2 separate regions of the Homo sapiens genome follow, and region 2 is linked to region 1. The links come from fine-mapping of genetic effects on gene expression. Tissue or cell type: whole blood. Region 1 holds a variant in brackets; the other region holds the start of a gene. All regions are shown on one strand. Distances are from middle to middle.

Region 1 (9,273 bases):
ATGTACAGGTTTGTTGCATAGGTAAACGTGTGCCACAGTGGTTTGCTGCACCTATCAACCTAGGTATTAAGCCCAGCATGCAACTTTTCTTATTTATTTATTTATTGAGACAGGATCTTGCTGTGTAGGCTGGTCTCCATTTCCTGGGCTCAAGGGATCCTCCTGCCTCAGCCTCTCAATTAGCTGAAACTACAGGTGTATACCACTGCACACCCCTGAAGAGGTTATTTAAGCCTCAACAATCTTGTCCTTGTTTGAGTCTCATATTTTGTATGACTCCCATTCTTATGCACATTAATAAATTTGTATGCCTTTTCTCATGTTAATCTATTGTCATTTAATTTCAGCAGAGTCAAACCTTTGTAGGGAGAGGGAAACATTCCCTCCACTCCTACAGTTGTGTTATGATTCCTACTCAACCCTTATCTAGTACCCTGTATTGAAAGAAATGCCTTAAACCAAACTTCTAATTCTCAATAAAAAAATTTTTAATATTCAGTGGCCAGTTACTGGATCAATAAATTTTGGTCTTACCTTCCCCTTCTGAGAATTCCCAAAGCTCTGTTCAGGTGGTGTTCTTCCTTACTATGGTAAACAGTAAACTCAGCATCATGCTATCAACAAATTGGGCTGGTAATGTTTGGGAAATGGCTATTAGTTTTGTTTTTTTTTTTTTTTTTTTTTTTGTTTTTTTTTGAGATGGAGTCTCCGTTTGTCACCCAGGCTGGAGTGCAGTGGTGTGATCTCGGCTCACTGCAACCTCTGCCTCCCAGGTTCAAGCAATTCTCCTGCCTCAGCCTCCCGAGTAGCTGGGATTACAGGCATGCCCCACCATGCCTGGCTCATTTTTGTATTTTTAGTAGAGACAGGGTTTCACCATGTTGGCCAGGCTGGTCTCGAACTGCTAACCTCGAGGGATCTCTCCACCTCGGCCTCCCAAAGTGCTGGGATTACAGGCTTGAGCCACTATCCCTGTCTTTGTTTTTTTGTTGTTGTTGTTCTTTTTTTTAAAACTATGTTAAAATATATATAACATAAAATTTTACCATTTTAACCAGTTTAAAATGTATATAGTTCAGTGGCATTAAGTACATCACATTGTTGTACAACCAGTGCTACTATCCATCTGCAGAACTTTTCATCATCCCCAACTGAAAATCTGTAGCTATTAAACAATAACATCCCATTACCCCCTTGCCCCAGCCCTGGGGACACCACCATTGTTCTTGCTGTCTCCATGAATTTGACTATTCTAGCTACCCTATATAAAAGGAGTCATACAGGGCTGGGCGCTGTGGCTCACACCTGTAATCCCAGCACTTTGGGAGGCCGAGGCGGGCAGATCACGAGGTCAGGAGATCGAGACCATCCTGACTAACATGGTGAAACCCCGTCTCTACTAAAAATACAAAAAATTAGCCAGGCATGGTGGCAGGTGCCTGTAGTTCCAGCTACTTGGGAGGCTGAGGCAGGAGAATGGTGGGAACCCAGGAGGCGGAGCTTGCAGTGAACCGAGATCGCGCCACTGCACTCCAGTTTGGGTGACAGAGCGAGACTCCATCTCAAAAAAATAAAGGAGTCATACAATATTTGTCCTTTTGTGTCTGGCTTCTTTCATTTAGCAAAATATTTTCAAGGCTTATTCATATTGTAGCATGGATCAGAATTTCTTTTCCAATTCCTTTGAGGCTTTATGGGATACTGTGAAATATATATTTGGTTTTTGTCCCTGTCTCCTGTCATACAACTCCTAATATCCTTGGAACCTCCAAAGACATCAGTGTCTTTATGTATACTAATGAGTTGACTGGTGACTGGCAGGCCCTGGGTAACTTCGGGATGGGGGCTGGTCACTGCAAAGACCAAAGCATCATTAGAGGGTTGGGACTTTCAACCTCACCCCCAAACCTCTGGGAAGGGGTGGGGGTTGAAGGTCAAGTTGATCACTCACGGCCAATGATTTAATCAATCATGCCTACACAATGAAGCTTCGATAAAAACCCAGAACAGGTGGCTTCGGGGATGTTCTGGATAGCTAAATGCATGAAGGTTCCTGGAGGGTGCCATACCCAGAGAGGGCATGGAAGCACCATGTGCCTTCCCTCATAACTCACCGTATGTATCCCTTTATCTGTAACCTTTGTAATGTCTTTTACAATAAACTAGTAAATGTGTTTCCCTGAGTTCTGTGAGCTGCTTTAGCAAATAAATCAAACCCATTGAGAGTGTTTTAGGAAGCCCAATGTATTGTTGACTGGTCAGAAGCACGAGTAAAACAATATGGAGCTTACAATTGGCATCAGAAGTAGTGGGCAGTCTTGCGGGACTGAGCCCTCAACCGGTGGGATCTAATGCCATCTCCAGGTAAACAGCGTCAGAATTGAATTGAATTAGAGGATACTCAGCTGGTGTCAGCTGAAGACCCTGCTGCAGAACTAATTGATTGGTTGTTGGTGGGGAGAAATCTCCATTCATTTCTTGGTGATGAGAGATCACAGAAGTCTTTTATGGTATGATGTGAGAGCAGATGTGAAAACAGCAGATGAGAAAACAGTTTGCTTTTTCTACAGGCTGTAATTTCTTTAATAATATTAAAGGCTTTGGGCAGGCACGGTGGCTCACATCTATAACCTCAGCACTTTGGGAGGCTGAGGCAGGAAAAATGCTTGAGGCCAGAAGTTCAAAACCAGCCTGGTCAACATAGAAAAACCCCGTCTCTACAAAAGAAAAATTTAAAAATTAGCTGGAGGTGGTGGTGCACACCTCTAGTCCCAGCTACTCAGGAGGCTGAGGTGGTGGATTGCCTAAGCCGAGGAGGTCAACGCTCCAGTGAGCCATGATTCTTCCACTACACTCCAGTCTGTTTGACAGAGCAAGACTCTGTCTCTAAAAAAAAAAATAATAAAAAATAAAAATAAATTAAAGGCTTTAATTCCTTGAATAATATCCTATTGCTTGTATGTGCCACATTTCATCTCTCTATTCATCGTTAGTGGACACTTGGGTTGTTTCCACATTTTGGCTGTTGTGAATAATGCTGCTACTATGAACAGACACAAATATCTGTTTGAATTCTTACCTTCACTTTTTTTGGGTATACACCTAAAAGTAGAATTGCTGGATCATAGGGTAATTCTATGTTTAATTTTTTGAGGAGGCACCATAGTGTTTTCTACAATAGCTTCTCCATTTTACCTTCCCACCAGCAATGTACATGGGTTCCAATTTCTCCACATCCATGTCAATGCTTGTCATTTTCTGTTTTGTTTTTGTTGTTGTCATTGTTGTTTATCTATATAGTAGCCATCCTAATGGGAGTGAAGTGGTAACTCATTGTGGTTTCAATTTGCATTTCTCTAATAATTAGTAGTGTTGAGCATCTTTTCATGTGTTTATTGGTCATTACTGAAGAAATGTCTATTCAAGTCATTTGACCGTTTTTTACTCTGGTTGTTTGTTTTTTGTTGTTACGTTGGGAGAGTTCTTTATGTATTCTGGATAGTAACCCCTTACCAGACACATGATTTGCAAATATTTTCTCTCATTCCATAGGTTGTCTTTTCTGTTGATAGTGTCCTTTGATGCACAAGTCTTAAATTATCATGTAGTTCAATGTATCTATTTTTTTTTTTTTGAGACAGTCTTGCTCTGTTGCCCAGGCTGGAGTGCAGTGGTGTGATCTCGGCTCACTGCAAGCTCCACCTTCCGGGTTCATGCCATTCTCCTGCCTCAGCCTCCCGCGTAGCTGGGACTGCAGGTGCCCGCCACTATGCCTGGCTAATTTTTTTGTATTTTTTTTAATAGAGATTGGGTAATTTATCTATTTTTGTTGTTGCTGCCTGTGCTTTTCATGTCTTATCTAAAAAATTATTGTAGAATCCTATGTCATGAAGTTTTTAGTTTATGTTTTCTTCTTAGGGTTTTATAGTTTGAACTCTTAAATTTAGGTATTTGTTTCACTTTGACTTTTTTTTTTTTCTTTTTGAGACAGGGTCTCATTCTGTCAACCAGGCTGGAGAGCAGTGGCACAAACTCAGCTCACTGCAACCTCCGCCTCCCTGGCTCAAGTGATCTTCCCACCTCAGCCGCAAGAGTTGCTGGGACTACAGGTGAACACCACCATGCCTGGCTAATTTGTGTGTGTGTGTGTGTGTGTGTGTGTGTGTGTGTGTGTGGAGATGGAGTTTCGCCATGTTTCCCAGGATGGTCTCGAGTTCCTGAGCTCAAGCCATCCACCCGCCTCAGCCTACCAAATTTCTGGGATTACAGGTGTGAGCCACTCCACCTGGCCTGACTTAATTTCTGTATATGGTGTAAAGTAGAGGTCCAGCTTCATTCTTTTGCATGTGGATATTCAGTTTTCCCAGCCTCATGTGTTGAAAAGACTGTTCTTACCCCATTGAATGGTCTTGGTACCTTGTTGAAAATCATCTGACTTTACATGCAAGGTTTATTTTCAGACTCTATTTTATTCCATTGGTCTATATATCTGTCTTTATGCTAGTACCATGAGAAGTCA[C/CT]TTTTTTTTTTTTTTTTTTTGAGATGATGTCTCGCTCTGTTGCCCAGGCTGGAGTACAGTGGCGCGATCTCAGCTAATTTTTGTAGTTTTAGTAGAGACGGGGTTTCACCATGTTGGCCAGGCTGGTCTCAAACTCCTGACCTCAGGTGATCCGCACACCTTGGCCTCCCAAAGTGCTGGGATTACAGGCATGAGCCACTGCGCCCGGCCTAATTTTTTTTTCTTAAGACAGGATCTCGCTCTGTCACCCAGGTTGGAGTGCAATGGAGTGATCTCGGCTCACTGCAACCTCTGCTTCCTGGGTTCAAGCAATTCTCCTGCCTCAGCCTCCCGGGTAGCTGGGACCACAGGCATGCGCCACCACGTCTGGATAATTTGTGTGTGTGTGTGTGTGTGTGTGTGTGTGTGTGTGTGTATTTTTAGTACAGACGGTGTTTCACCATGTTGACCAGGCTGGTCTCGAACTCCTGACCTCAAATGATCTGCCTACATCCACCCGCCTTAGCCTCCCAAAGTGCTGGGATTACAGGCGTGAGACCGTGCCTGGCCTGAGAAGTCAGCTTTTAAAAGAGCCTTTTTTTTACAGATGATAAAACCAAAACAAAGACAGGTTAACTAACTTATCCAAAGATATACATATAGTCAATAATTCAGAGATTTTAACTTAGTAGTCTGACACCAAACCACAGTTTTAACTACTACAAAAGAAAATGTGCCAAGTGTTTAAGCATAGAACTTCACTTGTGCAAAGTTATGAGTATGAATTTTACTGATATGTTTTGTTAAATGAAAGAACAAATATATAAAATAATATTTTAAATATATTTAAAATGTCAACATTATGACTTATACATTATATTATTATTATTTTTGAGACGGAGTCTCACTCTGTCACCCAGACTGGAGTGCAGTGGCGCAATCTCAGCTTACTGCAACCTTTGCCTCCTGGGTTCAAGCAATTCTCCTGTCTCAGTCTCCCGAGTAGCTGGGACTACAGGCGCCCGCCACCACGCCCAGCTAATTTTTTTTTTTTTTTTTGTAGTAGAGATGGGGTTTCACCATATTGGTCTGGCTGGTCTCAAACTCCTGACCTCAGGTGATCCACCCACGTCAGCCTCCCAAAGTGTTGGGATTACAAGCGTGAGCCACTGTGCCCAGCCGACTTATACATTTTAACTTGAATCACAGTATGCCCAAATCTATGTAATAATGATTTATATCGTAAAAAATCCCCACTCCTCACAACATTTTCAGGAAGATAGGTCTGTGTTTCCAATAATCTTCACCTTAACGGCCCATAGGCCCTTCAATTCAATCATATTTATACCTCAACTCATGATCTTTGGACTCCTCTGTTCTATTCTAGTCCATCTTTTCTTTAATTTTTGAAACACAAATCTGATCTCATTCTCTGATTCAAATGTTTTAATGTGAAGGTTAGAAAATGGCTAAATTGAGCTTGCAGAAATATTTTGTTTGACCTTCAGTTTTTCCAACATTGAAAAAATCAGGAGATTTCTTGCAAAAATCCTGATTCCTGGCCTCTCTTGAAGAATTTGGTTGTCTTGCAACATGTCCTGCGTTGCCATATGGCCGCAACTACTTGCATCTCCACCCAGTTAATCTGCTCTGGGGCCTACAAACATCTGACTTTACAGATAATGCTCTAAGGGTTCCTTGGGGCCTGCAGTACTGTCAGGACAAACTGGTTCCTTAGGCAGCAATGAGATTAGTGAACTAAACGTCCACATATCAACCTGAATGATCTTCAAAACACTGCTGAGTGAAAAAAAGTAAGAAACAAGCTGAGACCTATAGCATAATTTATATAAATTAAAAATATATACATATCATAAAAGAGTTCACATTTCACGAGAAGATACTCCAATAAAATGGACATATATCACACACTTGGAACATTTTATAGTTAAGGACACAGAAAGGGAGGGGAGTATACTAGGAACTGAGAAGTGCCATTAACTCAATAAGCTGGAGCTGATATCCCCCAAAAAAGTGGGAAAAAAAGAAGTTAAAAACTTTTTTTTTGAGACAGAATCTTGCTCTGAATGAATAACATATTTTTCATTTTAGACATTGTAGTTTAAGTCTCTAATTCAATTTGGACCTTTAAAAACCTTCCAGTCTATTTAACTTGCTCATTTTTTCTCTACCTTATTAAACATATGAAATACAGTTAAAGTAACTCTTTTATGCCTTTAGTTATTATATCATTTGTGTCATTTACAGATCTGTTTCCATTGATTGATTATTCTCATTATATGTCATATTTTCCTGATTTTTCCATGTCTGGGCATTTTTGGTTGAATGTAAGATGCTCTGAATGTTTTCTTGTTGGGAGGTGGATATTTTTATATTTATATACATATTCTTGAGCTTTTTTTCAGGGATACAGTTAACTTGCTTGGAACACTTACTTTCAAGGATGGGGATGATGTTTAAACTTTGTTAGGGAGGACCAGAGCAGCCTTTATTACAAGACTAATTTTTCCCAGTCCTGAGGAAATACTCTTTTAGGAATTATTTTAAACAATATCATTTACTAATTATATATATATATGTATATGTGTGTGTATATCTATGTATATATATGCCAAGTGCAGTGGCTCATCCCTGTAATCCCAGAACTTTGGGAGGCTGAGGCAGGCAGATTGCTTGAGCCCGGGAGTACAAGACCAGCCTGGGCAACATAGTGAAGCTCTGTCTCCACAAAAAATACAAGAATTAGCTGAATATGGTGGCCCATGCCCACAGTCTCAGCAACTCGGGCTGCCAAGGTGGGAGGACTGCTTGAGTCTGGGAGGTAAAGGCTGCAGTCAGCCATTTCATGCCACTGCACTCCAGCCTGGGTGACAGAGTAAGACCCTGTTTAAATAATTATAATTGATGTATAAAATTATTATACATAATTATGATATATATATTTCCTTTCTGGCTTATGGAAATGCAAAATATTCCTAGCTCTTTGAGAAGTTTAGGAATTATTTCCTTGAATCATTTTAGTGTCTCTTCCTCAAACTAAGGTAGTTTCCTCATATGCTTACACTGATGTATACTCAGCTGAAGACATGATCTTGGAGCTTCCACCCCTATCTCTGCACTCTTTCCTCTTCAGCATTCTGCCCTGCAAACTTAAGCCACCTTGCCTCCCAAGACTCCCAATTCCATCTTGTAAATTCAGGGAGACTGCTAGGTTCCACCTGGGTTTCCACTCTCTGTGCTGTATCTTCCATACAGTAAGATGGGGCAGAAGTAGGGATCATCTCATTTGTTTCTCCCATCTCAGGGATCGCTGTCCTCTATCACCTGATGTCCAATATCTGAAAACTATTATTTCATGTATGTTGTCAGGTTTTTGTAGTTGTTTCCTGTAGGAGGGTAAATCTAGTCTCTGTTACTACATCTTGGCCAGAAGAAGAAGATAGCCTCATATATAATTTAATTTGATTCTCAGCATTACTCTGGGGCAGATAATATTATTACAGATGAAGATCTGAAGCTTGGAGAAATTAAATAACCTTTTCTAGAGGCTTGCACAGTATATGATGCATGGGCACTAAAACAACATAAACCAAACCAAACCAAAACGAGAAACACAAAGCCTTCCTGATGGTAAGTAAAAGGGCAAATCAAGGATGATAACAAAAATCCTTTTACTCCAAGCACTTTACCCTTTCTGCATTTATCACTGCCTCAGAGCACTGTTGGACTACCTATGTAGCAAAGACATGGAGGGCTGGTTTAAAGTGTTAATGTCTGTGTTCCATCCCTGATATACTAAATCAAAATCTCTGCTGTCAATCCTTAGAATCTCCATTTCTGATAAATTCCCCACCCCTTGCCTTAAGAAATAGAAAAGACTCCACAGAACTTTTAATTTTATCCTCTCTCAAACCTCTTCAAGAATCTTCCTCTAGGTTATCATCCTGATTTCTTCAACTTTCCTTTGTTTCTGGATCTTTCCTTTTATAAAAATATTCTATTTTCTCCCAGCTTAAAAACAGACTCTTGCAAAACCAAATGTAAAATTCTAAGCCCCCCAACCAGTGGAATGGACCCCTCCTCTTGCTCAAGGGCATTCCAAAGTTAACCTGAAAAACTAGTCCAGGCCATGATGGGAAGGGGGGTTAAATATGCCTCATTGTACCCTCCTCCCTTTGAAATTCAGGGACAACTGACCAACATTAACATTAAGACACAGATCTTAAGACTGTCATCCTAAGACTGACATCAAACAGATTCTTTGTAACGATAAGACACTAAATGCCAAACTGACTCTATTATAGCATCACATAACAGATAGCAGGCCCTGAAAGAAATTGAAGTATTTTACCCTAAAATACATTTCTTTGACACATTTTGAAATGGCCCTGTAAAGCTGTCTCTCACGGGGATATCTGCATTCTGTACAGAATCCTCTTCCCTTTCCAGGTCTTTTTCCTGATCCAGGAGAGAATTAACCAAAAGTCTGGCACCTTTTTAAGTCTGATAAGAAACATTTACAATCTATTATCTCTGAAGCCTGTTGCCTGGGAGCTTCATCTGCATAAAAGGAATATTGATCTCCATGACCTTTTATCCTAACCCAGACACTTCATTCTATTGATTCCAGGTCTATAGATAAACTCTTTCAACCAATTGCCAAACAGAAAATCTTTGAATCCATCTATGACATGGAGGCTTCTTCCAACCCTGTCCCCCACCCCACCACTGCTTCTGCTTCCAGTAATCCTTCT
Region 2 (9,267 bases), 34 kb before region 1:
TTTTCACAGCCCAGGGATTTGTGTTGATTAAGGCAGTACTCTGTGATGGCTAAGAGCATAGGCTTTGGGTTCCTGTCCTGGTCCTGTCACTCCTAGTTGGGAGACTTTGGGCAAGTTATCAACCTCACTGTGCCTCAATTTCATCATCTATAAAATGGAGTTTAAAACAGTGCTTCCCTTGAAGATTACTTTTTGGACTAAATGAGATCATCTTTGAAGTGTTAAGTACAATGTGCAGAATATAGAAAGCATCCAATAAATATCAATCATTCTAGAAAAATCAAAGCTGGGCACGGTGGCTCACACCTGTAATCCCAGCAACTGGAGAGGCTGAGGCAGGAGGATTGGTTGAGCCCATGAGTTTGAGGCTATAGTGAGCTATGATCACACTACTGTATGCCAGCCTGGGTGACAAAGTGAGACCCTATCTTTAAAAAAAAAAAAAAAAAAGTTAAAAATAATTCTAGGAAAACCAGGATAGCTAACTTACATAGAAATGTGATGTGGGGGCTGGGCACAGTGGCTCATGCCTGTAATCCCAGCACTTTGGGAGGCTGAGGTGCGTGGATCACCTGAGGTCAGGAGTTCAAGACCAGCCTGGCCAACATGGCAAAACCCTGTCTCTACTAAAAATACAAAAAAAAAAAATTAGCTGAGCATGGTGGCAGGTGCCTGTAATCCCAGCTACTTGGGAGGCTGAGGCAGGAGAATCGCTTGAGCCCAAGAGGCAGAGGTTGCAGTGAGCCGAGATCATGCCATTGCACTCCAGCCTGGGCAACAAGAGCGAAACTCCATCTCAAGAAAGAAAGAAAGAAAGAAAGAGAGAAAAGAAAGAAAGAAAGAAAGAAAGAAAGAAAGAAAGAAAGAAAGAAAGAAAGAAAGAAAGAAGGAAAGAAGGAAAGAAGGAAAGAAGGAAAGAAGGAAAGAAGGAAAGAAGGAAAGAAGGAAAGAAGGAAAGAAAGAAAGAAAGAGAGAAAGAAAGAAAGAAAGAAAGAAAGAAAGAAAGAAAGAAAGAAAGGTGATGTGGGAGTGCTTCAAGTAAAAGAAAAATTATCCCTGCCATGATATTCTCTGTGCAATGCTTCAATATGCTTATCAAACAAGAGAACTATTGCTGAAAGAATTTTAGCATCTTTTTTACTAAGGCTTCTTTTTTCAATTTATTTGTTCAAAGGTTCCTGGATCGTGGGTTCCATTTTACAGAGATATGAAAGCCAATCCGATAGTGTTGCAGGTATTTACACTGCCTTTAAATTTGTACTTTTCTCTGGGAATGACAGGGGAGAAGCAGATGGTGACACCAGTGGGGTTTCTGATTTGAAATGACACAGTCTATATGATTAACCAGCAACAAGAGGCCAATCCAACCAGAATCTAGGACTAAGACTGAGTTTTGAGTGTTGGCAACAGGAAGAGTGTGCTGAAAGCACTCTGCCCAGGCAGAGTGTAGAGAAAATGGATTCATCTAGAAAATTATAAAAGACGAAATGAATATCACAGCTCTAGGGTTCAGACACATGCTCATTTGAAACAGTCCATAATATAGACTGATTGTTTTTTGTCAACTCATTATCCAAGAGCCAAGAAGTGCTGCATGAATGACCATCTGGAGATGAAGTTAAAGTGAAAGCCAGTGCTGGGAAACTAGTCACTCAACACCCAAACTGAATCCAGCATTTGTGGAAAGACCTCAGGCTGTGGCACAGATGAGAGTCAGGCGTTCTGACTGGCCCCACTATAGCCTCCAGGAGGGCTCTGTGGATTGGGGTTGGCAGCACTTCCTTAGATGGTGACCCTGCCTTCCTTCCTTTAGCCCACTTTCTTTCGCCCTCCTCTCTTCACGGAGTGCTTTCATCCTTCAACTAAAATGTCTGAAACAACCTTATTTTCCATCCTGGCAAGCTTGCACCATCCTCATTCATAGCTCATCTGGGAGCCTTCTTTTCCTTAAAGTAGGATTAATACAAGCGATAGCTTATTCCCTTTAGACTTCCAAGATCAAAAATAAATACGTACATACATGAAAATGGCAGAAAGAAGGAACCATGGGAGGGTCGCCTTTTCTTTTTCTCTTTACCACAGAACAGAGCGCAGGACTATAGTCTGATTGTCCTACAATCTATTCCATTTATTTTCACTCCCAATAGATGGTGTAATTTGGAAAAGAAAAGACACTCACGGGGCTTAACAGAGACCCAGTAGGAAACGCATAAACGTCTCCCTGCAGCACAATGATGCACTCGCTGCATCTCGGGGCTGCGGTACAAATGCTCAGTCCCTGCTTTGCTGAGCTGACCCGAGTGGAGCGGAGCGGTGGAGATTTCACCACGCTAACCCCGCTGGGCCTCGGCACCTCCACACAAGCCCCATTCCATCTCCTTCTTCCCATCACTTGGTCCATAGATCAACTGATTCCGTGCCTCGTCCCCCATATCCGTCCCTAAAACCTACCCTGCACTGATCCACCTTCAGATTTCCCACTGCTCCTCCGCAGAACCCACCCAGTGTGCATGTTTGTGCACATTTTGACAGAAAAAGTATTTCGTTGCATATGGATCAGCAACCCCTTCGCGGTTCTGCTTGCTCCCCTCCCCCTCCTCCCGCTGCTCCATTCACCTCCATCTCAGATCCCCCTCCTCCCCCCAGTCCGGTGGGGTAAAGAAAGCCTCCTCCAGGCAGCACAATGGCTGGCACTCTGAGGAAGCCGGACTCATCCCGTGCAGGCCGCATACACACTCCACTGCCCTTCCGGCCAAACAAGCCCGGACACGGGAGAGGGATGAGAGTCGGGGATGCCTAGCGGCGAGGAGAGAAGGGATAGGCAAAAGGGAAGAAGAGCGGGCTGTGATACCTCCTCGACGCCGTCAAACACTGCTCCCCGCATTCCAGAGCCCGGGGCCCACCCGACGGCAGCGCGCCCCGCCACCGCGCAGCCGCCCCGGTCCCTTCTCCCGCCCGTCTGTAGTAAAACAATCGCTCTCCCGGCGTCTGCGGCCGCTGCCAGCGGTTCTGACACTGCAGGAATGCGCGGTCTGGGGAAGGCTCCGCACTCTGGGGAGGGGCACGAGCGGGGTCGGGGGTAAGTTTTTAGGGACAAAGATGATCTTGGGGCGTTTACGGTGACTGGACCAGATAACGGTCCCGGGACGAGGTACCGACCCACTGCCCCAGCGCGATCGGGCGGCGTTCCCTTCTTCCCCCAGCCCCCATACCTCGCCGCCCTGCCTTCACACGCGCGCACACACGCGGGCACACACACGCGGACACACACACACACACACACACACACACACACACACCAGGCCTGGCTGGAGGGCCGATGCTGAGATGATACTGGAAGTGCCCATCATCCCACATCTCCAGGGCCTGGCGCGGCGTCCCAGCTGCGCTCCCTGAAGGGCTGGGCAGGAAGGCGACGGCCTCCCGTTGTTCCTTTCTAATCCCAGAATGGGACCAGGTGAGGGGAGCTGCGGCGACCCCAGACCGTCCTGTCAGAGAATCCCGGGGCCTCCTTACCACCCCCACCAGACCCCACCCCCAGCAGTGAGTCGGGTCCTAACTAAAGTCAACCCCCGCGACGGCACCTGTGCGGGTCCTGGCGGAGGGAGGCGGATCCCGGGGCTCAGCCGGACACCCCCATCCACGGGCCGCGGGAGCGGCCGGAGCGCAGCGCAGCGCAGCGGAGAGCCAGCCAGCCAGCCAGCCAGCGAGCGCTCCCCGCGCAGCTCCGGCGGCGCCCGGCTCCGCTCCCGCCTCCACCCCACCCCTTCCCCGCGCTCGTGCCCGGGCTCCGGGGGCGCGCCCGCGCTCGGGCACCCACCCAACTGGCACGCGCGGGAGCTGGACGTCATCCCCTCGTTAACATTCATAGCCTTCCTCCGAGCACGTGGGCTTGCCTTTATTAATATTTATGCATTTCTGTTTCTCTCCTCTTTAACATTGGCCTTTCTGCTTCCCTCATGAATATTCAGAAACTCCAAGATGAAAGCGTGCAATAACTACCAATATGGATACCTCGCAAAGCCTGACACTAGTTTCTGGATAAAATGCAGGCGATGGCTGCTGGCGGATGCCGGCAGACACACTCAAAGACCCTTTTGGACTTTCCGAGTTTCCCATTCTCCTCTACTGGAGGCTGAGGCGGGCAGGCCCAGCGACGTCTCCCAGCTCCAACTGGGTTCGGACCTCAAGCCAAAAATGAGGAGGCCGGCAGGAGAGCTTTTCTCGCCCAAAGATGCTGGGTGGGAGCTGGATCCAGCTGAAAAATCTGAGTGAGAAGGTTTCAGGCCCAGGAGGACTTGAGATAATACAGGAAAATTCAAGAGGCTGAAATGAGAAGGGTCCCTGGAGTCTTGTGAAAAATTATTAATTTATCTTGTCTACTGTGCATAGGCCTGTGCTTATAGAAGTTGTCAATAAAAAATCTAATAATTCACGAATACACACAACTAAGAGCACAAGAACTGTAATTATCGAAGGAAGGCACTGGAAAAAGCATGTCGGCTTGGAGAACCCCAAGTACTTTTGTCTGATGGCAAAGTACCTCTGGGCTGAACTGAGGACTTCAACTGGAAGGGGCAGGGAGCGTCTCTTTTGCTCGTTTATGCATTCATTCCACAGACATTTCAACCATGAGAAGGATGGAAACAGGAATAATGTCCCAATGAGATGAGAAGAAGCGTTGGCCTATTTGCCTTTGTGGGAGCAATAGACAGAGGATGTCTTCCTGTAAGAAATCATAAGGCCAGGCACGGTGGCTCACACCTATAATCCCAACATGTTGGAAAGCTGAGGCAGGAGGATCACTTGAGGCCAGGAGTTCAAGACCAGCCTAGGCAACATAGTGAGACCCCATCTCTATAAAAAAAAAAAAATTAGCCAGGCATGGTGGGCCCATCCTGGTAGCCCATCCTGGTAGCCCCAGCTACACTGGAGGATGAGGTGGGAGGATCGCTTGAGCCCAAGAGGTTGAAGCTGCACTCCAGCCTGGGCGACAGCAAGACCTTGTCTCAAAAGTAAATAAATAAATAAATAAATCACAAAGAGTAGCTGGTTAAAAGATCCCTAGATCTCCTTTCTTGGGATCATGCCCAGTTTTGTGACCTTGGGTTAGTTAACTTCCCTGTGGCTCATTTCCTCATCTGTAAAATGAAGAAAATAATAGTGCCCGCCGGGCGCGGTGGCTCACGCCTGTAATCCCAGCACTTTGGGAGGCCGAGGCGGGCGGATCACGAGGTCAGGAGATCGAGACCATCCTGGCTAACACGGTGAAACCCCATCTCCACCAAAAATACAAAAAATCAGCTGTGCGTGGTGGCGGGCGCCTGTAGTCCCAATTACTCGGGAGGCTGAGAATGGCGTGCACCCAGGAGGCGGAGCTTGGAGTGAGCCGAGATTGCGCCACTGCACTCCAGCCTGGGTGACAGAGCGAGACTCCGACTCAAAAAAAAAAAAAAGAAAGAAAATAATAGTGCCCCACTCTATTGTGGCCTGTTGTGGGATTAAAGGAGTGAATATGAGTAAAGTACTTCCAGGTTTATTAGAAGGCACTATATGTATGTATGTGTGTATATATATACACACACACATATATATGTCATATATATGTCTCATATAGATGTCCCATATATACGTCTCATATAGATGTCCCATATATATGTCTCATATAGATGTCCCATATATGTCTCATATAGATGTCCCACATATATGTCTCATATAGATGTCCCACATATATGTCTCATATAGATGTCCCACATGTATGTCTCATATAGATGTCCCACATGTATGTCTCATATAGATGTCCCACATGTATGTCTCATATAGATGTCCCACATGTATGTCTCATATAGATGTCCCACATGTATGTCTCATATAGATGTCCCACATGTATGTCTCATATAGATGTCCCACATGTATGTCTCATATAGATGTCCCATATATATGTCTCATATAGATGTCCTATATATGTGTGTGTGTATATATATATGTGTGTGTGTATATATATGTGTGTGTGTGTATATATATATGTGTATATATATGTATATATATATATGTCTTGGCTAATTTGAGGCCATCTTTTGTCTAGATCTTCAGAGCATGGGACAAACAGATTTGAGAGAAGCTTGTGAAGTACTGAAAGTGATAAAGAACTTGGTCTTCAGCTGGTGACCTTGTTAGTTATCCTCTCTGTACCTCAGTTTTCTCATCTGTAAAATGGAGATGCCAATATCTGCTGTTGGATGCCAATATCTACTACAAGGTTGTTGTTATGCATATTAAGTAATATAATGCATGCAAAATGCTTAGCACAGTGCCTGGCATATAATAAGAAACCAATTAGTGGATTCTGTGGTTATTTTTGTGAGGCTATGAAGAAACTGAAAGCTGAGGACAAGTAGCCTAGGCTAGGTACCTAGGATGAGAAATCCCTGAACATGAGCCCAGTTATTCTTCCAGCAAACACTTATTTTATTGTAGTAAGATATATATAACATAAAAATTACTATTTTAACCATTTTTAAGTGTACAATTCACTGGTATTAAACACATTCACATTGCTGTGTAACCACCACCACTATTCATCTACAGAAATTTTGTTATCCAAACAGAAACTCTGTATCCATTAAACACTAACTCCCCAGTACTCCCTTCCCCAGCCCCTGGTAACCACTATTCTAATTTTGTCTCTAAGAATTTGACTATTCTAAGTACCTCATGTAAGTGTAATTATACAATATTTGTTTTTTGTATCTGACTTATTTCACTTAGCACAATGTTTTCAAGGTTAATCTATGTTGCAACAATGTCAGAATTTCTTTTCTTTTTAAGGTAAATAATATTCCATGGTATGTATATACTACATTTTGTTTATCTATTCATCTGCCCATGGACATTTGGATTGTTTCCACCTTTTGGCTATTGTGAATAATGCTACTAATCTGTCATGGGATTAGAGTGAGAAAGAAAGAATAAAAAAATAATGCTGCTGTCAACATCGGTGTACAAATTCCAGCAAGCATTGGTTGCATTCCATGACCTAGGCTAGAAGCTGGGGAGCTAAAAATGAAGGCATGCTTTCAAGAGGTTCCATGTTTAGTATGTTGATTTCCAAACTCTGCTGCTTAGAACCTGCAGTGGATTGAATGGTATTTTCCTAAAATTTGTGTCTACTCAGAACCTCAGAATGTGACTTTTACAGATGTAATCAGTTATGATGAGGTCATACTAGATTCGGGTAGGCCCTAAATCCAATGACTGGTGTCCTTATAAGAAGAGGAGAGGAGGCTGGGCATGGTGGCTCACACCTGTAATCCTAGCACTTTGGGAGGTGAGTAGATCAACTGTGGTCAGGAGTTCGAGACCAGCCTGGACAACATGGCGAAACCCCATCTCTACTAAAAATTAAAAAAAAAAAAAAATTAGCAGGGTGTGGTGTCACATACCTATAATCCCAGCTACCTGGGAGGCTGAGGAAGGAGAATCGCTAGAACCGGGGAGGCGCAGGTTGCAGTGAGCTGAGATCATGCCACTGTACTCCAGCCCAGGTGACAAAGCAAGACTATGTCAAAAACAAAAACAAAAAATACAAGAGGAGAGCATGCATAGGAAAGGAGGCAGAGATTGGAGTAATTCAGGTACAAGCCAAATGACACCAAGGATTGCCAGGAACCACCCAAAGCTAGAATGAGGCAAGAAAAGATTCTTCCCCAGGACCTTCAGTAGGTAGCATGGCCCTGCTGACAGCTTGATTTTGGACTTCCAGCCTCTAGAACCATGAAACCATAAATTTCTATTTAAAGATCATTTGTCGTGGCAGGCCTAGGAAACTAGTACAAATTTTGGTAGTAGAAAGTGGGATGCTGCTGTAACAAATATTTAAAAATGTGGAAGTGCCTTTGGAACATCGTAATGCAAAGAGGCTGGAAGAAGTTTGAGACACATGACAGAAAAAGCCTATATTGCCCCAAAGAGACTGTTGGTATAATTATGAATATTAAGGGCAATTCTAGTGAGGCTTCAGAAATGAGGAGACTGTAGAGAAAGTTTCTACGGTCATAGAGAATACATATATTATTATAACAAATAGGAATATGAATGTTAAAGGTGATTCTGGTAAGGTCTAAGATGGAAATGAGGAACTGTTGTTAGAAACTGAACAAAAGACAAACTGTGTTATAGAGTGGCAGAGAACTTGGCTGAATTTTGTCCTGCTCTTGGAAGGCAAGTAGAACTTGTAAGCGATGAACTTGTATATTTAGCTGAGATTTCCAGGCAAAGTGTAGGAGATTTGGCCAGGTTTCTCCTTGCTGCTTATAGTAAAATGCAAGAAGGAATGATGGTGTGGATCCCTTTCACTCCTAAGTAGCAAGTTACACAGGAGACCAACATGGTTTCTGAGAATTTTATACCAACAGAAACACTGTCAGCCTGGAATGAAAAGGACGGAGATGAAATGAAGGACAAGTCTTAGACCTCTGAAATTCCACAGGCAGAAAATAGGCTGATGTACGTTCTTGGCAGCAAACATGGGTTATCCTTCAAGAAAAAGAAAGAATGACTCTTAGGATGGGGCCCACTGCCCTGGATCCAGAGGATGGAGCATCGAACCATAAGGGATTTTTCTCAGGCCTCGAAACCTAATGGAACTTCCCCTGCTGTTCTACAAGCTTGCTTTGGACTAATGACCCCCTGTTTTCCTTCCATTTTCTCTCTTTCAAAAATGTTTTTTTAATTTTTTTTGTAGAAATGGGGTCTCACTATGTTGCCCAGGCTGGTCTCAAACTCTTGGCCTCAAGGGATCCTCCCACCTCAGCCTCCCAAAGGACTAAGATTATAGGCAAGAGCCACTGTGCCCAGCCCTCATTTTCTCCCTTCTGCAAGGGGAATGTCCATCCAATGTCTGCTCTACCACTCTATTTTGGAAACAAATCATTTGATTTCTAATTTCATAGGTCCACAATGGGAGAGGAATTTTGCCCCAGAATGTATCACACCTAGAGTTTCACCCATACCTGATTTAAATGATGAGATTTGGAACTTTTAGATTTTATATTTGTAATAGATGAGATTTAGATTTAGAGCTAATGCTGGAATGGGTTAAACCTTAGGAAAGTTGGGATGTGACCAGGTACTGTGGCTCACGCCTGTAATCCCAGCACTGTGGAAGGCTGAGATGGGCAGATCACTTGAGGTCAGGAGTTCGAGACCAGCCTGGCCAACATGGTGAAACCCTGTCCCTACCAAAAATATAAAAAACTAACCTGGTGT

What was found.
Region 2: it holds the start of FEZ1, and the variant in region 1 is fine-mapped to the expression of FEZ1 in whole blood (INTERVAL, PIP above 0.99).

Annotation. Positions count from the first base shown.
Region 1 is chr11:125,526,707-125,535,979 of GRCh38, forward strand. No RefSeq gene overlaps it. Among named protein-coding and RNA genes, the nearest start is that of FEZ1, 35 kb to the left of the region's middle. RefSeq lists a cis regulatory region at 5,965-6,438 and a silencer at 7,527-7,821. The variant C/CT (reference allele first, on the strand shown) is at 4,520.
Region 2 is chr11:125,492,537-125,501,803 of GRCh38, forward strand. It overlaps FEZ1 (fasciculation and elongation protein zeta 1), which reads right to left and starts at 3,729. Exons shown (of 10, transcript NM_005103.5): 1 at 3,585-3,729. It overlaps LOC403312 (putative uncharacterized protein MGC39545), which reads left to right and starts at 2,678. Exons shown (of 2, transcript NR_164146.1): 1 at 2,678-3,079; 2 at 3,972-6,990. RefSeq lists enhancers at 1,781-2,284, 2,787-3,290, 3,291-3,792 and a silencer at 3,667-3,916.